7 linked regions of the Homo sapiens genome follow. The protein of the gene in region 2 purifies or fractionates together with the protein of the main gene of each other region. This does not show direct contact. Each region holds a gene or a part of one and is shown on either strand. Other genes may lie near its edges.

Region 1 (2,741 bases), on a different chromosome or scaffold from region 2:
AAGTAGAATAGCATGAAAAACTTAATTTTGTGGACATTACCTTTTTTTGTAATCAGCTACTGTATGTTTTATTTTAGATCTTTTGTTTTGGGTGGGTTTTCTGCTCTGGAGGTATATGCACTAACAAAACATTTTCCTCCTTTCATATACGCATGTTAATTAGCAATGTGAGCAATATTTCCTACCATACTTCACTCCCAATATTTTTTGAGATGTTTGTATAAAATGGAATTTAAAGTTCACTTATGATTGTATATGAACCACAGAGGAGCCCATTTATTAATAAAAAACTTTTTTAATAGTTAAATGTAGAGGGAAAAAATAAAAAAAAATGGGAAACATTGTAAACAGCTTAAGTTTATTTTGTGTATGATCGAGGCACTCTGTTGCAGGAAGGTGTGTAATTGGGTTCTCTCTGCTTCAAATGCGCTCTTTCAAACCATTCATTATCCTGTGTATTTTTAATGTGGTTTTAGTAAATGTTGGTAGTAGCTCTGTTGAAGTAGGTAATTGTGTTATGTTTTGGGTGGTACACACTTGGGGCATGGTAACCCAAATTTCATGTGCACGGTTTCCCTTTAGCCCACTGCCCAAATTTCACATACCCTTCACCCTTTGTTCCCTTTGTAAAAGGAGTGGTATCTGTTTTGAGCTGCCAATTCAGATGATCAGAAATGCTGCTTTCCTCAGCATTGTCTTGTTAAACCGCATGCCATTTGGAACTTTGGCAGTGAGAAGCCAAAAGGAAGAGGTGAATGACATATATATATATATATTCAATGAAAGTAAAATATATATGCTCATATACTTTCTAGTTATCAGAATGAGTTAAGCTTTATGCCATTGGGCTGCTGCATATTTTAATCAGAAGATAAAAGAAAATCTGGGCATTTTTAGAATGTGATACATGTTTTTTTAAAACTGTTAAATATTATTTCGATATTTGTCTAAGAACCGGAATGTTCTTAAAATTTACTAAAACAGTATTGTTTGAGGAAGAGAAAACTGTACTGTTTGCCATTATTACAGTCATACAAGTGCATGTCAAGTCACCCACTCTCTCAGGCATCAGTATCCACCTCATAGCTTTACACATTTTGATGGGGAATATTGCAGCATCCTCAGGCCTGACATCTGGGAAAGGCTCAGATCCACCTACTGCTCCTTGCTCGTTGATTTTGTTTTAAAATATTGTGCCTGGTGTCAACTTTTAAGCAACAGCACTGCCTAAAAGCAAGCAGAGAACAGAATCCCAGCACCATTCTATAGGCAACTTTTTAGAATTCAGATATAGTAAATCTGTTCCAGATTTATGATGTTTTATGTAAAAAAAATTTTGTATAATAACATAGCTGAATATTTTTGTTTCATTTCTTTGATGTAAGGCGTGTGAACATTCGTTTGAATATCACATGTTGAAGTCAGGTATGGCACAATGGGTTCTGAGACCAGCTTTTCCTCCCCTCCCATTTGCCTTGTTCCAAGCTCTTTCTTTTCAAATTACTTTTCTGATATTCATAGGCAGGTATTTAATTTTACTAATTAGCATCCTGTGTGAATGTATTAAAGAAGCCACTGTGTTTTAGTGTAGTTGGCAAAAATATAAAAGCTGTTTCTTATTTGCCCCTATTTTTTTGGTGTCTTAAAGTTATATATTAAATCACAGAGAAGCAAGGGAGAAAGTTGAAAGATATCTAAGGCTCATATCACTTGATTCTATGGTAGATTATATTAGAATTGAGGATGTGGCACATTAAAACTGGAACATGGGCAAATATAGTGTTCCATTTTAAAATTCTAAGTTTATATTGTTAAATGGGTGAAAATTTAAGTTTATATTTGCATTTCCAAGCGTTTCTAAAAATCACTAATGCCATCTATACTTTTAGTATGAAACAGCAGACTATAGAAAGCACAGGGAAGAATAGGCTAAATACATTCTTTGAAGAACCAGAGGCATATAACCACATCATTATGTCATTCCTAATACATGGCTAGATTTTCTAATGATAAAATTGACTGTGTCCCAATGCTTATTTGATTCTAAGCTTTTTTATTCTGTTTCTGAGATATTTTAATAGCTTTGCAAAATATGCTGACCAGTTTTTGGAAAATAATGGTTTTTATAGCAAGCAAAGACTTTATGGCACATTTTCAAAATAGCACTCATACATACTTACATTTTGACAGAAATGTGAATTCTCACATTGATGAGATATTCTTTTTCCCACCTGCCCTACCCTTTAAAAAAGGTCACTTTTCTAATGTGTAGTAGATTCATTTACGCCTTTCCCTTTGAGTCATACCATGTTTGGAGAACTGTGTGAATTGTAGGTAGAGAAATTAACTAGGGAAGCCAGAAGCTTGAACTAAAGTTTTAAATTTGTAGGCAGATGAGAACTTTTATACTATGGTTGCTTTGGGCGATTCTAATTTTGTAATAGCATCATGATCACCAAAATTAATTCAAACATTTTAGTACATCTTTAATCTGTCTTATTTACCAAAGTTCTAATCTGTTTAAGAACAGGATGCCAAGAGCATCTTTCATTTTATAGAATGATATGCTCACCTTTATAAGTGTCACCTAAAAGCTTGAGGGTAAAAAAGAAGCAGCCCATATATCTAAACTACAGGATGTCTTGAACAAGATTCACAGAAAGAAAGAAAAAAAAGCAGTTCTTTCCAGGAAGGTGGTAAGGAAGAGCATGCATATTTCTTGTTTTAACCAAATACCTTTT
Region 2 (3,500 bases):
TGCTGAGTGTGAAGAAATGTAGAGGACTCATTTTTGATCCCCCAGGGAGACCTATTTTTACTATAAATTTACTCCAATAATGAGATGTGTAGGAGGATTTACCATTACATAGTTTTAATACATTTCAGCGTCATTGGAGACTAAACATTTTCTTTCAGAGTAACTGATAGTTTCTAGCTACCTAAATAAGGATCTTTTCTAAATCTGACAAGAAATTTTGAAAGTTTTTTCACAATGGCATTCTAGAGTCATCTCTAGAATGATGATATTAGATATTAATCATTATTTTATAAAGAGAAGACTTAATGAATACATCTGATGAATGCATTGGTTATAAGGCTAATAGTTTTACATATAAGCTAGAAACAAAATGAGTCTGTTTGTGAAATTATCTCCTCTACTCTAGTGGAAGAATCTGTAGTGAGATTACTAATAAAGGACTAATGTTTTATCATTTGATTTGTTCAGATGGGTAATGCAAAAAAAACTTTAGCCTTCTGTGAAGTAACCTTAGGAGTATAAGTGAATGAAACGTATTTGAACTTTTACTAACCATAAATATTGTGGCTTAGCTTTGTAGATACACTCATCAAAGTTCGAAATAGACACCATAATGTAGTCCCTACAATGGCACAAGGAATCATAGAGTATAAAGATGCCTGTACAGTTGACCCAGTCACCAATCAAAATCTTCAATATTTCTTGGATCGATTTTACATGAACCGTATTTCTACTCGGATGCTGATGAACCAGCACAGTAAGTTAGCTCATCATGATCATGGTATATAGACATGGGTGTAGAATATAAGCCATACTATAACTAGATGTCTCACTAATCAGCGGGTCACATTCTCAGTGATAGTACTAATCATTATCCTGAATTTTATAACAATTTTTTTTTGTTTTTATTTTTCAACAGTTCTTATATTTAGTGACTCACAGACAGGAAACCCAAGCCACATTGGAAGCATTGATCCTAACTGTGATGTGGTAGCAGTGGTCCAAGGTATGTTCTGTATTTCTGCACTTCCCTTATTGAAAATGTACAATATATGATTGACATATCTATAATTGAGGTGACTCTGTGAATGAATTTATATTCACAGAGTGTTCCATTTATTTTATAAATGTTATCTTCAAGGTCCTTTGCTTTTGAGAGTCAGTAGTATAAACATTCCTCTAAAATATTATTTAAAAATCCAAATATAAGTGACTAACATGCCATATTTTATATGTTGTATTTAGTCTCTGAAGTGCACATATTGCTAAAACTGCAATGCAAACACTGTCTTAATTTTTCTTCAATAAAATATTAAAATATATTTTTATATACATAAACCTGTACCTTAGTGAATATTTTAGATTAGGGTAATACAGACACTGAAGATTATTTGAGAACTGTACTTGGCATAAACTCATTTCATTGTTATAAAAAACAACTTCTATTCCAGATGCCTTTGAGTGTTCAAGGATGCTCTGTGATCAGTATTATTTATCATCTCCAGAATTAAAGCTTACACAAGTGAATGGTAAGTTATAAGTAAAATATATTTTAACCTGTGGAAAATTCTGTGTTCTCCTAATATTATTGCTTTTTGTAAATATAAAGCAACTTCTGTGTTCATTTTTTCTCTTGCCTAAAGTTTGTACACATTTTTTTTGAAGACAAGGTTCTCTTTAACTATCTCAACTGGAAGGCTCCAATTCTGCCTATTCAGTTGCTAATGAGGATTCATAAAGAAGAATGTTTTGAACAAATAATATGGGATTAAAGTAGCAACTATATTCCAATATCTTAGATCAAAGAAAGATTACTTCCTATAGAATATGAGGGATAAAGAGACCAGAAGTAGGGAGGATATAGCAGTGGAAATATCCTCTTAAAGAGGTTACCCATAAGACCTGGAGACAAAAATACTTTAAATTTCACTATAAGAAATAAGCCAGTGACAGATGCATGATTCCACTTATATGAGATGTATAAAATGGTCACACTCACAGAAGCAGAGTAGAATGGTAGTTGTCAGAGGCTGTGAGGAAGGGGAAAATGGGGAGTTGCTATCCAACAGATAACGAAGTTTCAGTTATGCAACATGAATAAATCCTAGAGTTCTGCTGTTCAACATAGTGCTTATAGTTAAGGATATTGTATTGTACACTTAACATTTTGTTAAAAGGGTAGATCTCATGTTAAATGTCTCCACCCCAATACAAAAAAAATTGCACTATTGTTTTATACTACTGTTTTGGAAGCAGAACATACTTCAAAAATCTTCAGCTCAGCTGGGTTCAGTGGCATACACCTGTAATCCCAGCATTTTGAGAGGCTGAGGTGGGAGGTTTGCCTGAGCCCAGGAGTTCAAGACCAGCCTGGGCAATAAAGGGAGACACTGTCTCTACAAAAAATAAAAATTAGCCAGGCATGGTGGCACACACGTGTAGTCCCAGCTGCTCAGGAGGCTGAGGTGAGATGATCACTTGAGACCAGGAAGTCAAGGCTGCAGTGAGCCATGATTGTCCCACTGCACTCCAGCCCAAGTGACAGAGTGAGACCCTGTCTCAGACAAACAAACAAACAAACAAAATTTCAATTCTGACAAGGTCTTCCCATACTGTCTGAATGACTGAAGTGACTACATGATGAACGAAAGGCACTATTTTCACCCCTTCCCATTCTGTTCTGGTAAATAGTTGCATCTTAAAACAAAACAGTATACTTAAATTGGAATTACCTTCTCTTTTCTATTTAAAGTAAACATCTTTCTCAAGTAATATTTATACAGGAACAGTTTTTGTTTATGGTGACAGTTAAAATCAAGTTGCTCAAAGAGTAGCCTAACAGATTAGGGACAAGCAAATGTAAATAAATACCAAAAGTAGAAGAGCAAATAAAGAATGGAACGTATCTCTGAGCATAAACAGGGTTGTTGCATAATACTTGTAGATAAACTGCTCCAACTGTTGGACAAAATAAAGAGGGGATTGTGCCAGACCTTGTGTTTTCTGATTCGAACTTTGCCAAGGCCTGGAACGCTGAAGAATAATACTTTTATTTTTCTTTTCTTTCTAATTTTATTTTACTTTTTATTTTTCTTTCCAAAAAGCATTAAGAGGTTTTTGTTTGTCTGTTTCCTTTATCCTCTTGGTAAAATTTTAGCATATTTAACATATAAGATTTAATGTTTGGGTGATACAAAAAACAAGAAAAATCAGGTGTGTTATTTTACTAAATATTAAAAATATGAAAATTATAGTTAGCATTAATTTCAATATTATGCTATAAGCACAGTTTTCTCCCTTCTGTCTTAAAATACATAAAATTTTGACTCTGAAATTGTGCAGTACAAAAATGTTGAAAATAGAAATAATCCACAAAATCTAATTTATAGCACTGTTCTTCCACACTTACCCAACTTCACACATTTGTGGAGAAATACAAAAATTAATCATATGGAGCAAGGTGGTTCATGCCTATCATCCCAGCAGTTTGGGAGGCTAAG
Region 3 (3,500 bases), on a different chromosome or scaffold from region 2:
GCTTTTCCCAGTATCCTAGAGGGCAGACTTCCCAGATTTCTAGCACGTTACCCTGGCATGACATCACAGCAACTTTTCTACCATTCAGTGAGCCAAGGCCATGCCTTCGCCAACAATGTCAGGATCTCAGCCCTGGGGATGGAGAACTCTTCCTGACTCTATCTCAGCCCTAGAAGTATGAGCTGCTCCCTAAATCTGCTGGTCCTTTATTTTTTTAAGAGTTTTATTTACTTCTTAAATCCCTACCTATTCCACTTCCCTGTAAAAACAGGTGTTTTTTTTTAGATTAAACCAAAAAATGAGATTACATTTTTATATTTATTTATTTATTTATTTTTGAGACAGAGTCTTGTTGTCACCCAGGCTGGAGTGCAGTGGTGCGATCTTGGCTCACAGCGACCTCTGCCTCCTAGGCTCAAGCTATTCTCTTGTCTCAGCCTCCTGAGTAGCTGGGACTACAGGCGCACGCCACCACACCCGGCTAATTTTTGTATTTCTAGTAGAGATGGGATTTCACCATATTGGTCAGGCTAGTCTTGAACTCCTGACCTCAGGTGATCCTTGAACAACACAGATTAAAGCTGCACAGATCCACAGATACGTGGACTTTCTCCGGTCTCTGCCACCAGAGACAGAAAAACCAACCCCTCCTCTTCCTCCTCAGCCCACTCAACTTGAAGATAATGAAGATCTTTATGATGGTCCACTTCTACTTAATGAATGGTAAATATGTTTTCTCTTCCTTATGATTTTCTTAATAACATTTTCTCCATCTTACTTTATTGTAAGAATACAGTACACAATACATAAAATATACAAAATATATGTTAATGGACCCTTTATTTTATCGGTAAGGCTTCCTGGTCAATAGTAGGGTATTAGTAGTTAAGTTTCTCAGGAGTCAAAAATTATACTCAAATTTTTGACTACGGGGGAGGGACAATATCCTTAATCCTTCATTTGTTTAAGGGTCAACTGTATATCAAAAAGGCTTTCTCACACAACCAGGATAAAGACTTACCTCACTGCTGGGAGCCTCATGCTCAGGAACTACATCTCGATGCTGGTTTTGAGAAACTGACACTCCACTGAGAGAAACAGAAGTGTTTTTTGGTGTATGGAAGGCATTGATGAGATGACTCAGAGGAACTGTAACCTAGAAAAAGATAAAAGTTAAAAACTAAGTAGTTTTTTTTTAAATAAACAGAACAATCTCCTTTTTTTGTCAGGATTTGTTAAGAGTTAAAGGTACATTATATATCAACTCTGTATACTAAAAACTGTAAGTACTCAGATTTACTGCTGGTGAGACGAAAACTGGTATGTTCTTTCAGGATATTATTCTGAATATGTAAATCAAAAGTATCAAAAATACATACATTTCTTGTTTGTAGCAATCCACCTTCTAGGAATTTATTATAAGGAAATAATCTGACAAGTACTTGCACATGCATAGAGAACAACTCTCATCGAAACATTTAAAAAATAGTAGAAAGCTGGAAACATCCAGCATTAGGGGAGCGGCAAAACAAATGATACCACTGGTCGAGTGCAGTGGCTCACGCCTGTAACCCCAGCACTTTGGGAGACCGAGGTGGGTGGATCACTTGAGGTCAGGAGTTCAAGACCAGCCTGACCAACACAGTGAAACCCCATCTCTACCAAAAAATACAACAATTAGATGGGTGTGATGGTGTGCGCCTGTAGTCTCAGCTACTTGGGAGGCTGTGGTAGAAGAATTGCTTGATCTCAGGAGGCGGAAGTTGCAGTGAGCTGTGATCATGCCACTGCACTCTAGCCAGGGCAACAGGGTGAGACCTGTCTCTCAAAAAAAAAAAAAAAAAAAAAAAAAGAAACTACCACAGAATGAAATACATCCAACATTTAAAAAAAAAAAAATAGTAAGTAGGCCGGGAATGGTGGCTCATGCCTGTAATCCCAGCACTTTGGGAGGCCAAGGCAGGTAGATACCTGAGGTCAGGAGTTCGAGACCAGCCTGGCCAACGTGGTGAAATCCCATCGCCACTAAAAATACAAAAAAATTGGCCAGGAATGGTGTTGGGCGCCTGTAATCCCAGATACTTGGGAGGCAGAGGCAGGAGAATCACTCGAACCTGGGAGGCGGAGGTTGCAGTGAGCCAAGATCATGCCATTGCATTCCAGCCTGGGTGACAAGAGCAAAACTCCATCTCAAAATAAATAAATAAATAAAAATGAAAACAAAAAAAACACTTGAGCCCAGGAAGTTGAAGCTGCAGTGAGCTATCATGCCACCACACTCCAGCCTGAATGACATGGCAAGACCCTGTCTCAAGAAAAAAAAAAATTTACTTAATAAATATTTGTTGAGTAAATGAATACATTAAATGGGTTCTTATTATATACCAGGTTTAGTACTACAGGCTTTACTTCTATCATCCCATTTAATCCTCAAACAGCTATAATAATGAGTAACAATTATACTTCTTGTTACAGTTCTGTCAGAGACTTTTGAACCAGAGTGACTCCATCTGGAGTAGGGGCAAAATGAGGGTAAATGAGGCTGAGACCTACTGGGTTGCATTCCCAGGAGGTTAGGCATTCTAAGTTACAGGATGAGATAGGGTGTGGGCACAAGATACAGGTCATAAAGACCGTGATGATAAAACAGGTTGTAGTAAGGAAGCCAGCCAAATCCCACCAAAACTAAGATGGAGAGGAGAGTGACTTCTGCTAGTCCTCACTGCTCATTATGTGCTAATTATAATGCATTAGCATGCTAAAAGACACTCCCACCAGACCATGACAGTTTAAAAATGCCATGGCAACATCAAGAAGTTACCCTATGTGGTCTAAAAAGGGGAGGAACCTTAGGGGTCCCCCTTTCCCTGAAAACTTATGAATAATCACACATTGTTTAGCATAAAATCAAGAAATAACTAACTGTAGGTATCCTTCGTGGACAAGCCCAAGCAGCTCCTCTGCCTATGGAGTACCCCATTCTTTACTCCTTTACCTTCTTAATAAACTTGCTTTCACTTTATAGACTCTCTCGCCTTTTTTTTTTTTTTTTTTTTTTTGAGATGGAATCTCGCTTTGTCGCCCAGACTGGAGTGCAGTGATGCAATCTCGGCTCACTGCAACCACCGCCTCCTGGGTTCGAGTGATTCTCCTGCCTCAGCCTCCCGAGTAGCTGGGACTACAGGCGCAGGCCACCACACCCAGCTATTTTTTTGTATTTTTAGTAGAGATGGAGTTTCACCATGTTAGCCAGGATCTTGATCTCCTGACCTCGTGATCCGCTCGCCTCTGCCTCCCAAAGTGCTGGGATTACATGCGTGAGTCCCCGCGCCTGGCGACTCTCTCGAATTCTTGTGCGAGATCCAACAACCCTCTCTTGGGGTCTGGATCAGGGCCCACTTCCAGTAAAAATTCCAGTGTTTATCTCCTTCAAAACTCAAGTTTGAGTTGAGAACAATGGCAAACTTAGTTGCCACTGTAATCCTGTTAAGAGGTGGGAC
Region 4 (3,500 bases), on a different chromosome or scaffold from region 2:
TTGTTTTTTCAAAAATTATTTTTGAATCCTGGTCAAAGATTCCAGTTTGCTAATGAGTACTTAAAACTTTAAGAGTGCAAAGTTCAGCTACAGCAAATCCACAGACAAGGATCTCTTTATAACTTTTTGAAAAATAAAAATAAAAGCTTTAGAGAGAGGCTTCCTGGGCTGGTGCCCATTTTAATTCTGAGAAGGAAATTAAGCATTTCCTACTATAAAGGCTATCTTGAAGAAGAATAAAAAGGGATTACATTCATAGGGCATGATTCATAATTCTTTAACCTAAAATATAATCATGTACCCCCTAATTATTTGTGTCTTTATTCTTGCTGTTTTATTTCCTGATCATCATCTATTTCTAGAAAAAGTATTTATTATGGTTTAAAAAAAAGACTCAAGCTAGAGATATAGCCTGTTGTTTATAGCCTCTTCTTACCTTGGTTCAGGAGAGTAAAAAGGGACCATTCGTATAATTACCCATGCCGATTTCTCAATGTTTCAATGCCTATGGTTCTCATGGCGAATGGAGCAGCTATAAATAAGGATCAGGTATTCATCAGTATTTAGCAGTATTCATCACCATAAGTCCTTTGCTAAATTTGGTGAGACTAAAATTTTTGTCACCAGAAATTTAGAAATGGGTTTTTAAAATCTTGTTCTTGTTACTTAAAGGCAAACTTGTTATAAATTTGTAACAAATAGGTGAAATCTATAAAATCTTTAATTCATATTCTCCTTCCTATCAGTATAACATTCAGGCTTATCCAACAACAGTGGTATTCAACCAGTCCAACATTCATGAGTATGAAGGACATCACTCTGCTGAACAAATCTTGGAGTTCATAGAGGTATTTCAGATTATAGACTATGTGACTAGAAATTTGTCTGTTTCTATGTAAACCCTGTATGAATGTTTCATATTGTTTAATAGGATTTACTCTTTTCATGCCCAAACTATTTTCTTACAAAATGATTTTTAAAGAATTTTTCTAATGTTTTACTCTTCTTATATACTTGTCTGTAAACTCAAAGTAAATCTGTGTTTTATTTGTTACCTGGTATGTACAGTGCCTTATAAACAATGGACACAATTATTTATTGAACATATGCAATGTATTTTCACCTTGTCACCCCTTTGCACTGTTTTCTCTGAAAACAAGTGTCTGGCATCTACAGCATCTTTTTTTTTTTTTTTCTCAGTAACACTCTTGATAGAAATACTTACAGGGGACTCCTAGAAAAAAAAAAAGAAAATTTCTAGTTTATTATTATCCATTTGATGACCCTCCAACCCTGTCCTACTCACCTGTTCCTCCTCCTCTGACGTAATGTTTTGTCTTGTTTTCCCAGTGAAGCTAGCCTCTTCATCAGTATTACCTGACTGTTGTAGGCTGAAGCTTTGTTAAAATATCATTTGGAACAAAGAATCTGTAGAAAGGTGTAGTATCTCCAGTCAGAATGTCAGAAAAATGAGATAGTAGGCTTTCCACTAGTAATTAAAGAATCATTTCCAAACCAGTCATTCTTGGTTCTAGAACAGAACTTTATGGCCTCTGTAGACATCCAGGCAGCCCTTGAAACTCTTTTATTATCCATGCAGAAACTTAAAGTTGCCTCTTTGCCTGTTATGATTTTAGTGATACATAGAGATAAAGGATAAATAGACCTTGATTTTTTACAAAACTAATGAGCAAAATCCAAACTTAAAAATCTAAGTTAGGTTTATTTTCATATTTTAAGATAATTCACATTGGATTTCTTTTAGCTATCCTTAAGCATCTTTTGGTTTCTCAAAAATGGGAACTTTCTAAAGGACATACACAGATTGAGCACCCCTAATCCAAAAATCTTAAATCTGAAATGCTCCAAAGTCTGAATTTCATGTTTAGACTTGGGTTTCATTCCCAAGATATATGCAAATATTCCAAAATTCAAAATTCTCAATACTTCCAAGTATTTTGGATAAGAGATACTCAACCTGTACCAACAATTTGCCAGGAATATATGAACAGCTATGCTTTATATATATGTTATAATGGAAGCTATATTCTCTTCAGGATCTTATGAATCCTTCAGTGGTCTCCCTTACACCCACCACCTTCAACGAACTAGTTACACAAAGAAAACACAACGAAGTCTGGATGGTTGATTTCTATTCTCCGTGGTGTCATCCTTGCCAAGTCTTAATGCCAGAATGGAAAAGAATGGCCCGGGTATAGTAAAAATAGTTTATTTTAAATCTTAACATTTACTAAGAATGTTTATTTAACAGAATTATTTTGAAACGGATGTGAATGAACCCACAACTAAATTATTACTTAATAACAGTACTGATCATACCACTTTGATTCCAGCTCTGTTTCTGTCTGGTGTGTGAATGGTATAGCCTACCATTTTTGTGTGTATAGCATCTGGTACACTTTTTTTTTTTGGTCGGGTAGCAGGGGGCAGAGTCTCGCTCTGGAGTGCAGTGGCGCAATCTCGGCTCACCGCAACCTCAACCACCCTAGTAGCTGGGATTACAGGCATGTGCCACCACGCCTAGCTAATTTTTGTATTTTTAGTAGAAACAGGGTTTTGCCATGTTGGCCAGGCTGGTCTTGAACCCCTGGCCTCAAGTAATCTGCCCACTTCTGCCTTTCAAAGTGCTGGGATTACAAACATGAGCCTCCGTGCCCAGTATATCCAGTACTTTTGACTAAACTGTTGCCAACAACAACCCAAAAATTTACCTCATATTTGTTTCAATTTTTTCTAATTTTTTTCCTGCTTTATTTTTAGAGTTTAAAAATATCATTTCCTGACATACTGTAGGACTTAAAAGTAAGAAAAAAAAGCTTTCAGCATGTGTATTTAGAAAATTTCCTGAAAATAGGCACCATGTTTTAAGTTGTAGAAGATTGGAAACAAATCACTTAAATACCAGAATGGAAAATGCAATTACTACTTCACATTTGTTTACAAGATAAAACACTAAATCTGAGTTAAAGTGATTTCTAGTATCTTAACATTTAGGATTACATATTTTTGTGCTCTTTTCAATAAAATTTTTAAGTTCAGGTGTGAGTCAGTATAACACATTAGACACCTACAAAGCTTGTTTTCATTGGAAAGAATACTTTGAAATATTGCAAAGACTTTCATTAGTTTCTAGCACTTTGAATTTTAGAAGTATATAGTTTTTTCTCATGTAACAGTTAAATGAAATAAATTGTTTAATCTGCAATAATTTTAGTAAGTACTTAATTACAAAATTAGATTACAAATTCATTAGTATAAATGGTCTATTATATGTTAAACCCTTATCCATTTTTATTGGGTAAAAGTCACTGATAAATAATATAATAACTGTTTCACCATAATAATACAATGCTTATTTCTTTATTGCAAACATATGTAAAAAGTTATGGAGGTAATCTGTTTTTTCTTTTACAGACATTAACTGGACTGATCAACGTGGGCAGTATAGATTGCCAACAGTATCATTCTTTTTGTGCCCA
Region 5 (3,500 bases), on a different chromosome or scaffold from region 2:
ACGGTTTCACCGTGTTCGTCAGGCTGATCTCGAATTCCCGACCTCGTGATCCACCTGCCTTGGCCTCCCAAAGTGCTCAGATTACAGGAGTGAGCCCCTGCACCCAGCCAAATTGTACTTCCTAATAGGTGCAATTTCCAGCAGCTTTTGACCAATATTTTTTCCTTTTTCACTGCTAAAAGTACAGATTATCATCCAGGTACCATTGAAATGCAGTTGCTGTCTGAGCTATTCAGCCGTATCTTTGGCAGATGTCTAGTGTTATTCATCACTCCTGTAACGACCTTAGCAAAAGATTGTACATGATTCACACAACTTGTCCTTGAGAGATTTTTCAAAGTTGAGCTGAGTTGTGAGGAAGTATTCTAAACCTTGCTGTCCTGAAGTATAGTTCATAGACCAGCAGCATTGGCATCACCTGGAAGTTTGTTTAGAACAGAAACTCAGGCGACATCTCAGACCTAAGGAAGCAAAATCTGCATTTTAATAACATCTCCAGTTGATGTATATATATTAAAGGTGGTAAAGCACTGGTCTAAAACAATCTTGGTGGAAATGAAATGTTTTTTTCTCTGTCTTCTTTCAGGTCTTTGTTGAGTATGCAAATGCTGGTGATTCCAAAGCTGCGCAGAAATTACTGACTGGAAGGATGTTTGATGGGAAGTTTGTTGTGGCTACATTCTACCCGCTGAGTGCCTACAAGAGGGGATATCTGTATCAAACCTTGCTTTAATCAGTAACCTAAGGACTGTTTCCTTTTTCTCCTCTTCCATTTCTTGGGTTATTCCACATATGAATGCAGGACTACCCCCTTACCATTTTAAGAAGGTACTTTATACATTTATTTAATCCTACTAATGTGCAGCCATTGCCCAAGCAGTGACTGCGTTGCATACATTTGGCACTGAGTAGGACAAGACCTCTCAGCTATACATTGAGGGGTTTTAGAGCATCCATGTGGGCAACCCTTTTTTGTGCGGGAGAGCAGGTGTTGCTCTTCAGTATGTAGCCTAAAAAAATCTTAATTATTTCATGGATCATGAAGCAAGGATGAATAATATCATGTCTTGGTAAATACTAACAAATTTGTTAGGTTTGGTGACATCATTTACAGATTATTTCTTTATGTTGTCCAGTGGTTCTTCCTTATTGTTGATATCCATAAGCTGGCACTGGATGCTCTCAGTAATGTTAAGTAATTGTCAAGCAGCAGTTACCTACTGTGTTCTTAACACTGAGTTGTGAATTTTTTCTTAAAGCAGTACTGTAGTACTGAATATTCCTTTAAAGGAACTGCAGTGAGCCTATCTAAGTTTTTTTAAATTAAGGCTTTTAAAATAGAAAGCTGATGCTTGATCTTGCACAATTTTTATGTCTAGTATGTATGCTTGAGTGAATGTGCGAGTATGAATGATTAGAGAAAATTTGAGTCAGTGTACTTTATAGTGTGAATCCTGTGAGCTAATACAGTCTATACTTATTTCTTCCCTACCTGTTTCACATCCGTAAGATTTAAGATATACATTTTTTGAGAGGTAGTCTGTCTGATACAATGTAAATGACAAAACATAATTCCTGAGAGGCCCAGAACAAACTGGAGTCTAGCCTGGAGTTAAATTGAGACTTCTAAAATGATTGGAACAAAGACTAAGTTGTGCCAGATGTAAATCAACCCCTCTTTTAGTTTACTTTAGACTTTGTATTAGCTCATCTTTTTTGTAGTAAATCTATAGTTTTAAGGTTTCTCAAGATGTGGCTCTACCTACTATGATGAAAATTGAAGTGGGTCAAAAGAATTAGATGTACAGTGAAGGGAAAAGAAAAAAAATGGGCGAAGAGAGGGTGGAAAATAAAAGGATTCTTTTTTCTTCCTTTCTGTTTCTCGTATCCCTGCTCCCTTTTTCCTCCCCTTCCCTCATTCTTTGCCTCTATCCTTAGCTGAAGACAAACTAGAGGAGCAGCATCCCAGGTAGTTTGGCTTTTGACTGCAAGGTAGTTAAGAAAGGTGTAGATATAATGAGGTAGAAGTAGAAAGGAAGAAAAACTCAAAGAATTCTTAAAAGGATTCATAGCAACATAATGTGTCCCTGAGTAGAGGATGCTGCTATGCGTGAGTTCATGGACACAAGTTGATTACATGGTTTTTAGAATTATAATTATGGATTCTTCTTATTTCATGGTAGGTTGTCTTTAAAGATATAAAAATTAGGATGCCTTTATGAAGCACTGATTATACCAAAAAAAAAAGACAAGTTATATACAGGTTATTAATTTTTTTATTTATTTATTTTTTCCTAAGGAAAAAGTCTTCTATCTTTCCCTGCTGGAAGCCTCCTCATATTTCCTTATGTTTGCCATGCAGGTTGCTGAGAGTCCAGTTAGAATTTGCATTTTACAGAATGAAATACTTTACCCCATTCAAACAATTATTGTTTGACATTTTAGTTATTTATAATTGTCAAATTCAGGACTCTCCTTTAATGTTTATTATGAAACCAAATTTGGCATAAGGAGGCTGATTTATGAATTACCAAAGGGTCTTGTGGCATGTTCCCCAATACATGCCCTTAGAAGGAAGAACTATTATTTTTTATTTTGGCCCTTTCAGGAGTTGATTATAAATTGGTTTGTTTTCAAGTCAGAATTCAAGTGGGCAGAACCCGTATTGTGAAGACCTAAACTTTCCTAAATGTTCATATGGGTAGCAGATTTTGTGGTGATTAGAAACATCAGGTCCTTAAATACGATGAACATGGGATACAAAGGAATTCTTTATAAGGGCAAGTATCCTAAGTTAGCACATTTACTTTTCTCTCCCCTCCGCCCCCAAAAGAAAAATCCTTACAAATAAACTGCAGGTAGGCTTCTAAGCCTAGTCCTGCAGTATGCTGCTAACATCTTGATGCCAATCTTCACAGCATTCTTTGATTGTCATCTTATTGCTGATACATTCATACATATATTTAGTGCTTGACACTGTAGAATTTTGTTACAGAAGATGGTTACTAGATTTTAAGGGAGCTGAGGGAATAATTGATGAGCCTTGAATTAACCATGCATTTAATTAGATTTTTTGTTGTTGTTGTTGTTGTTTTGAGATGATGTCTTGCTCTGTTGCCCAGGCTGGAGTGCAGTGGCTCAATCTCGGCTCACTGCAACCTCTGCCTCGCAGGTTTGAGCGATTCTCCTGTCTCAGCCTCCCCAGTAGCTGGGTTTACAGGCGCTTGCCACCACACCTGGCTAGATGTTTTATATTAAAGCCAGAGAATTGAAAAAGAAATGCCTCCTGTGATTGAAATTATTTTATAGCTCTTAGCCCGTTCTACCAAAGATCACATTAGCAGATTACCCCTCCCTCCTGTGATATTATCTTTCTTAAACCTGAACCAAATATCAAAAGATACAAGTTTCATGATTAGGATGAAATATATACATAGGGATTTTGGTTTATTGAAGTTATTGAAAGACCTAGAAATTTTCTTTTTGAGAGAAAGGGTAAA
Region 6 (3,500 bases), on a different chromosome or scaffold from region 2:
AAGGTATCATATTCTGGGTAAAAGGCTTGAGAGCAGTGTTCTTATTAATTTAGATTTTCTTTGCCTACAAACACAAAATAAGGCAACTAAATTATTATGGCTATTTTTGATTCTCAGAGTCATTTGTAGCCAATAATATTTTTTCCCTCTGCACATTACCTTGACCTTTCTTCTTGGAATTGGTTCTCAGCAGCATTCCTACCTGTCAGTACCATTCTAGATCTCTGTAGTTAGCTTTCCTTGGGATCTTCACATCCACTGGAATAAAAACCATGATGCCCAGAAAATGCTGCCACTCTGCCTCCTGGCTGGAACAGGCTACTTGTTTTCTTTTAAGTGCACACCATGGTCTTCACCTGTGAACCTGGCTTACTTCTGAAGTTTCTTGTCACCGTAAGGCAAAATTGCTTCAATACTCTTAGTGCAAGTAGCTGTAGCTTCTAGAATTCCCCTCCATCTCAAATAGAAGCGATTTTTACTGAACAGCCTTCTGCGTGAGTGTGTCCAAGTGGCTCACACAGTACTTTAACACTTGAAGAATTATATAAAAACAACTTATTTTAATATTTTTTCTTCAGTGAGTTTTTTCAAAAGTCTATTTTTTTCTCCTGAATGCTGTGAAAATTAACGTAATTTTTTAAAATCATGAGCTCAGTAAGTTGACTTAAGGAAAGATTATTGTTTATATCCACATGTATGGGATGAGTAGGCAATGGGAAACCAATGAAAGCTGTCATCTAATTCCTAATTAGACCAGTTTAATGCAACGTATGTTAGTATTTGTGTTTTTATGTCTTTACTTTTGATGTGCATCTGTAAGAAGAAACTGCAAATACTTCTGGAGTTATTGGTGCCAGGGAAAATTAGTTTAAGGCTTTAGTTTGCAGTTTGTTTGTTTTCTTTTATACTTGGAAGTAGAGATGTTGAAAAACAAACTATTGTTTAAAAAGCCCAATTTACTAATTCTTATCCCACTTAGAAATGCTTTTCACCTTTACTGAATATCTTCCACTAAGTGATATAATAAACCAATTCTTGAAGATTTATTTTGTCTTTATGAAGAATCATTAGATTTATCTTATCTTCGACTTGAATTTATTCCTAGCTCATTTTAGAGATGAGTCTTTTTCTTCAACATCTTCAATGTGAAATCCCTCGAAAACCTTGCCCTTAGGGTCTTATTAATCAGAACTTTCTTTAATATTTTATTTATGGTGTTTTTAAAGATATAAAGTTCACATAAAAATAATGATGTGGAAATAACATATAAATATTAGAACCAAAAGTAATGGCTTTAAATTTCATTGCTTTAATTGTAAAAAATTCAAGTATTGCAAAATATTGATAAAAAGCAATATGATCAGCAATAATATTAGACGTAGCATCATTTATCTGCAAAGAGTTTAAAAAGTTTTTTTGCTTAGGGAGGATCACCTGTGTCCAGGAGTTCAAGAACAGGCTGAGCAACATAGTGAGACCCAGTCTCTACAAAAAAATTAAAAAATTTGCTAGGCATGGTGGCACAAACCTGTAGTCCCAGCTACTCGAGAGAGTGAGGCTGGGGCAGGAAGACTGCTTAAACCTGGGAGGTTGAGGCTGCAGCAAGCTATGGTTGTGCCACTGCACTCCAGGCTGGGTGACAGAGCCAGACCCTATCTCGAATCCCCACCAACCAAAAAAAAAAAAAAAAACCAAATGAACAATTTTTTGCTTAATTGTTAAAGTGTACCTTAGGTGTTGTCTAACATACTTTTGTGTTAAATTGAACTAGGGTCAGAGATGAGATCAGTTTAATCTCCCAGAAAGGGGATTGGTAGGAGGGGAATGGGGTGGACATAATCACATAAGCCAGCCACTGATGATTTCTGCTTCGCCAACTTGACCACGCAAGCCAAGGGCAGCAGTTGAGATAGCTGATTTGACTCCCCTTTGCATGTTAAGTTTAAGTTATGATAACAACAATGAAATGTGCTGCTGAACTTCTGACTCCATACACTTCTCAAAGACATAAATGAAGATTCTATTAAGAAAATTAGATCACTACAATCATCTCTAAAGTTTATTGTTTATTAAGCTCCACATTTTTCTAGGTCATATTCTTGTGTATCTTCTTACTTGTGAATCAGTAATTTTGTCTTAAGTCCATTCTATAGGCCTGGTATGGTGCTAAGTGAATGACTCAGCAAAGGCAGAGGAATTAGTATTTGCTTTGTTATATATATATAATTTGGCTTTATGTTAAGAAATATTTCCACACTTATGTGTGAAACAATAAAGGCCATAAAGTTTATTTCTGTCTCCTAAATTTGAGCATGGCATACCTTTGTGGGTAGGAGGGCTAGAGGAGCCACCCATACTGACCTACGATGGTGTCTTTGTATCTCTTGTTAGCACTTTAGCAGGGGAAGAAGCAAAGTACTGGATTTTGTAGAAAGTTTTTCTTCTCCTCTTATTACTGTGAAAGGTAGATAATTTCCAATTCCTCATCTATTCATCATTTCAGTGGCTTCCTTGAAAAAGAAAGCAAGAATAAATATTTGTAACTTGTAGTTTTGTTGGTAGTTTATGATTATGGTATAAAAATGTTAGAATGTTCTGAAGTATAAAAGTAATGGGATTTTTCTCCATGTATTTAGGCCATATTTTCCTGCTTGTGCTGCTCTTTAGTGTGTCAGACTAGAGTTCTTTGAAGATTTTATCTAACCTATGATGATTGCCATTGTCGAGCTTGAAAGCAGCATGGTGAAACAAAGTGGTATATTCTTGGAAAGATTCTTATATCACCTATATCACCGTTTTAAAATAGAGTGAGGCTTTGCTATTTTGTCATTTGAATGCTGTGGAATTTAATAATTATTGAATACAAATTGTACATAGTGTGCCTAATCATTTTCAACTTAAATGTCAGCAGATTTTTTTCTTAGCTGGGATATGAGACCAGCTTTTGCATCTTAATTATAGGTATAGAAACAATGTGGTTTAAAAATTAACATTACCCTTAATACATTTTAAAAGTCATCAGAATATTCATAATCCACTCTGACATAATAGATGTTATCTACTTTGAGAAGTTTGAATTATTAAAAGTCACCAGTGTGCGATCAGTTCCACAATTGTTCTTTATCTAGATCATTTATTTTGTTCCCTTTGTGTAAGTTGTCAGGGAAGACTAAATGCCCATGTGTCAAAATGAAAATAATACCTAGTAATAAATGCCTGAAAATAATGCCTGGCATTTCTGGGTTCTCTCCTCTAAGACAAAGTATACTTACTATAATTTTAGAAATGAAATAAAAAGGTATTTATATATATAAATAACACTATATTTATAAAATATAGTATTATACTATATTATACTATATAATATATAATATATAGTATAATATTATAATAGTATAATATACTATTATATATTATATATATTATATTATATATAATATAGTATAAATAATATATAATATACTATATAAATAATACTATATTTATAAAAAATACACTAT
Region 7 (3,500 bases), on a different chromosome or scaffold from region 2:
GACAGGCAAATCACTTGAAGCCAGGAGCTCAAGACCAGCCTGGTCAACATGGAAAACCCCATCTCTACTAAAAATACAAAAATTAGCCAGGAGTGGTGGTGCGCACCTGTAGTCCCAGCTACTTGGGAGGCTGAAGCACGAGAATCACTTGAACCCAGGAGGTGGAGGTTGCAGCGAGCCGAGATCGCGCCACTGCACTCCAGCCTGGGCAAGAGGGAGACTCTGTCTCAAAAAAAAAAAATGTCTGTGAGTTTGTGTATCTCTGTGTGTTTAAAATATTGATGTCTGGTAGAGGAGTTACATTTTTTATTTATCCTCAGATATTAGACTAATTTATCTTTCTCTCTCAGGGGGTCAAACCAACCTTCGCATACCTCAAGGCACTGTGGGCCAAGTAATGTTGGATGATAGGGCATACCTGGTACGCTGGGAATACTCCTATAGCAGCTGGACCCTCTTTACCTGCGAGATTGAAATGTTGCTTCATGTTGTTTCAACTGCAGGTAAGGTCAGCTTTCGGAAACATCACCTACGAGGAGGAAAAGTGGATATGCTTGGAGGATTTAGAAAATAGAATATCTACATAAAATTTAGAACCATCAAGATTGTGATTTGTCTGATTTGTGTATCTGGGTCTCAGAGACTGTTCAGTGATCTTAAAGGGGTTGTTTGCCGTGAGGTCACAGGCTGTCTTTCTTCTCAGATGTGATTCAGCACTGCCAGCGAGTCAAACCCATCATTGATCTCGTCCATAAGGTCATCAGTACAGACCTGTCGATAGCAGACTGTCTCCTGCCCATCACATCTCGCATCTACATGCTGCTGCAGCGGTGAGTCTGTCTTGGCTGACCCTCAGCTGCCCAGTAGAGATCTCAGCACTTGTGCCCTCAGTTTGCAGGAACCTGGACACATACCCACTGGGTTAAAGTTCGCGCATATTCCTTGGTTTTCCTGTTTTTATATCTGTGAGGGTTTTCCTGTTTTTATATGTCTGCTGAGGGGAGAGACTGGGGAGAGAGAAGTGGAAAAATGTTTGTGAGGGAACCAGTTGTATTATTTGCTTTATTGAGTATAGTGTATTGTTCTCCAACCAGGTTAACGACAGTGATCTCCCCACCTGTGGATGTCATTGCTTCTTGTGTCAACTGCTTAACTGTTTTGGCTGCCCGCAATCCAGCAAAGGTGAGATGCCAGATCTTCCCAAGAGCCAAAAATGTAGCACTTGGCACATACCTGAAGATATGTGGGCATTTAACTCTTCCTTTTCCTTCTCAGGTCTGGACTGATCTTCGTCACACAGGTTTTTTACCATTTGTGGCCCATCCTGTCTCCAGCCTGAGTCAGATGATTAGGTGAGCCAAGTCCTAGGGTGGTGGGCCATATTCCCTAGTGAGAACCACATATGTCTCAGATCTAGCCTAGGTTTATTAATTTTATTTTTATGTATTTGTTTGTTTATTTTTTTGAGATGGAGTCTCACTCTGTTGCCCAGGCTGGAGTGCAGTGGTGCAGCCTCCGCCTCCCATGTTCAAGCAGTTGTTGTGTTTCAGCCTCCCGAGTAGCTGGGATTATAGGCTCGAGCCACCACGCCCAGCTAATTTTTGTATTATTTATGTATTTATTTACTTTTTTTATTTTTTGAGATGGAGTTTCGCTCTGTTACCGAGGCCAGAGTGCAGTGGCACGATCTAAGCTCACTGCAGCCTCTGCCTCCCGGGTTCAAGCAATTCTCCCACCTCAGCCTCCCCGGTAGCCAGGATTACAGATGTGCGGCACCACGCCCGGCTAATTTTTTGTATTTTTAATAGAGACGAGGTCTTACCATGTTGGTCTGACTCGTCTGGAACTCCTGGTCTCAAGTGATCTGCCCGCCTTAGCCTCTCAAAGTGCTGGGATTATAGGCGTGAGCCACCGCGCCTGGCCTGATTTTTTTTTTTTTTTTTTTGAGATGGAGTTGCGCTCTTGTTGCCCCGGCTGGAGTGCAATGGCGTGATCTTGGCTCACCACAACCTCCGCCTCCCAGGTTCAAGTGATTCTCCTGCCTCAGCCTCCCAAGTAGCTGGGATTACAGGCATTCACCACCACGCCCCGGTAATTTTGCATTTTTGGTAGAGATAGTGTTTCACCGTGTTGGCCAGGCTGGTCTCGAACTCCTGACCTCAACTGATCCGCCTGCCTTGGCCTCCCAAAGTGCTGGGATTACAGGCATGAGCCATGGTGCCCGGCCGAGAGCAAGAGAGATTTCTTATCCAACATCAATCACGTTAGTATGTGAGCATTTACTTTCCAGCCCAGAAAATCCAGAGGTTTCTAGATTCAGGGACTTGGTGTCCCGTTATTAAGCCACAATCACTCTGTACTTTTTCTCATTTCATGGGTTCTCGAGCTCAGCCAGTAGACCACTTACCAGTACACAGGCTCCATCTTACTACCTGAGCATTCTCGCCTTGCTGTCTCTTGACAAAAATGTTTCCCTGATGTTCCTTTGATTTTTTTACTTTCAATCTAGGTTTTACATCAATAAAACATGTTCTTAATGTTTACCCTGGGTACAGAACTGTCTTGATTGGATTATTTCCACTGGAGAGCTTTTCTATTTTATATTCAAGTCATCTAGACTATAACAAGAATGCTCTATGATTAGTTTCTTGAAACCTTGAAATTTCCCTATCATTTTTTTTCCCTCTACTTCTTTTTCCAGTGCGGAAGGGATGAATGCTGGAGGGTACGGAAACCTCTTGATGAACAGTGAACAGCCTCAGGGCGAGTATGGGGTTACTATTGCCTTTCTGCGCTTGATCACCACCCTTGTCAAGGTACAGTCTGATTTTGTTCACAAAGGGCAGAAAAAGAAAAGGTCCAGTCTTGTCAGATGACTCTGAAATAGTTTCCCTGGCCCCTGGTGCTGTAATCTTCTTGTCTGTAGGCAGAATAGTCATCTTGAAGTTACAGTGACAACAGTTTCTATGTATTGAGTACCTAGTATGTGCCAGTTATGTACTCTATTAGGTGCTTAATTATGTGAATTTATTTAATGATTGGAAGGTTTATGAAGTAGAATGGAAGAGGCCAAAAGGGTATTGCAGTTACTATCAAGCTATTTTGACAGTAACCTGGGATAATATCATATCCCAGTATATATACATGTGTGTATATTCCTGAAGCAAAATTTCACAGTTTATTTCACAACATTTATTCTTACCACACAAGTTGTACCCTGATATTTTCTATTCAGTCTCCTCCCTATTTAAGTGAATTTTGACCATAGACTGATCTCATAATCTACTAATGGGTTACAACTCGGTTTGAAAAATACTGACATAGAGCATAAATAATGACATAGAGCATAAATTTTGGAGTCAGAATTAGGTTTACATTCAGGTTGACAGCTTACTAGCTGCATGACCTTGAGCAAGTAAAGAATATCTTAAGAGTCTCTAAAACAGAATGCTATATGGTCTCTACCTCATGGGATTGAGAAGAGGGTCATGCATGAAAAA

What was found.
Region 1: the proteins of PDK4 (region 2) and CNOT6L purify together in Homo sapiens (affinity purification with mass spectrometry; one large-scale study listed by BioGRID and IntAct). This does not show direct contact.
Region 3: the proteins of PDK4 (region 2) and YME1L1 purify together in Homo sapiens (affinity purification with mass spectrometry; one large-scale study listed by BioGRID and IntAct). This does not show direct contact.
Region 4: the proteins of PDK4 (region 2) and DNAJC10 purify together in Homo sapiens (affinity purification with mass spectrometry; one large-scale study listed by BioGRID and IntAct). This does not show direct contact.
Region 5: the proteins of PDK4 (region 2) and UHMK1 purify together in Homo sapiens (affinity purification with mass spectrometry; one large-scale study listed by BioGRID and IntAct). This does not show direct contact.
Region 6: the proteins of PDK4 (region 2) and FRK purify together in Homo sapiens (affinity purification with mass spectrometry; one large-scale study listed by BioGRID and IntAct). This does not show direct contact.
Region 7: the proteins of PDK4 (region 2) and NUP188 purify together in Homo sapiens (affinity purification with mass spectrometry; one large-scale study listed by BioGRID and IntAct). This does not show direct contact.

What each region holds. Positions count from the first base shown.
Region 1 is NC_000004.12:77,715,628-77,718,368, reverse strand, and holds part of CNOT6L (CCR4-NOT transcription complex subunit 6-like), read left to right. Parts: 3' UTR 1-2,741. UniProt on the Homo sapiens protein: Has 3'-5' poly(A) exoribonuclease activity for synthetic poly(A) RNA substrate.
Region 2 is NC_000007.14:95,590,017-95,593,516, reverse strand, and holds part of PDK4 (pyruvate dehydrogenase kinase, isozyme 4), read left to right. Parts: intron 1-572; coding exon 573-757; intron 758-919; coding exon 920-1,006; intron 1,007-1,451; coding exon 1,452-1,529; intron 1,530-3,500. UniProt on the Homo sapiens protein: Kinase that plays a key role in regulation of glucose and fatty acid metabolism and homeostasis via phosphorylation of the pyruvate dehydrogenase subunits PDHA1 and PDHA2.
Region 3 is NC_000010.11:27,147,885-27,151,384, forward strand, and holds part of YME1L1 (ATP-dependent zinc metalloprotease YME1L1), read right to left. Parts: intron 1,157-3,500; coding exon 1,022-1,156; intron 1-1,021. UniProt on the Homo sapiens protein: ATP-dependent metalloprotease that catalyzes the degradation of folded and unfolded proteins with a suitable degron sequence in the mitochondrial intermembrane region.
Region 4 is NC_000002.12:182,754,257-182,757,756, forward strand, and holds part of DNAJC10 (dnaJ homolog subfamily C member 10 isoform 1 precursor), read left to right. Parts: intron 1-446; exon of another isoform or gene 447-549; intron 550-746; coding exon 747-848; intron 849-2,057; coding exon 2,058-2,213; intron 2,214-3,435; coding exon 3,436-3,500. UniProt on the Homo sapiens protein: Endoplasmic reticulum disulfide reductase involved both in the correct folding of proteins and degradation of misfolded proteins.
Region 5 is NC_000001.11:162,521,818-162,525,317, forward strand, and holds part of UHMK1 (serine/threonine-protein kinase Kist), read left to right. Parts: intron 1-586; coding exon 587-733; 3' UTR 734-3,500. UniProt on the Homo sapiens protein: Upon serum stimulation, phosphorylates CDKN1B/p27Kip1, thus controlling CDKN1B subcellular location and cell cycle progression in G1 phase. May be involved in trafficking and/or processing of RNA.
Region 6 is NC_000006.12:116,054,392-116,057,891, reverse strand, and holds part of FRK (tyrosine-protein kinase FRK), read left to right. Parts: intron 1-3,500. UniProt on the Homo sapiens protein: Non-receptor tyrosine-protein kinase that negatively regulates cell proliferation.
Region 7 is NC_000009.12:128,982,199-128,985,698, forward strand, and holds part of NUP188 (nucleoporin NUP188), read left to right. Parts: intron 1-350; coding exon 351-503; intron 504-703; coding exon 704-830; intron 831-1,094; coding exon 1,095-1,182; intron 1,183-1,275; coding exon 1,276-1,352; intron 1,353-2,701; coding exon 2,702-2,816; intron 2,817-3,500. UniProt on the Homo sapiens protein: Component of the nuclear pore complex (NPC), a complex required for the trafficking across the nuclear envelope. Required for proper protein transport into the nucleus.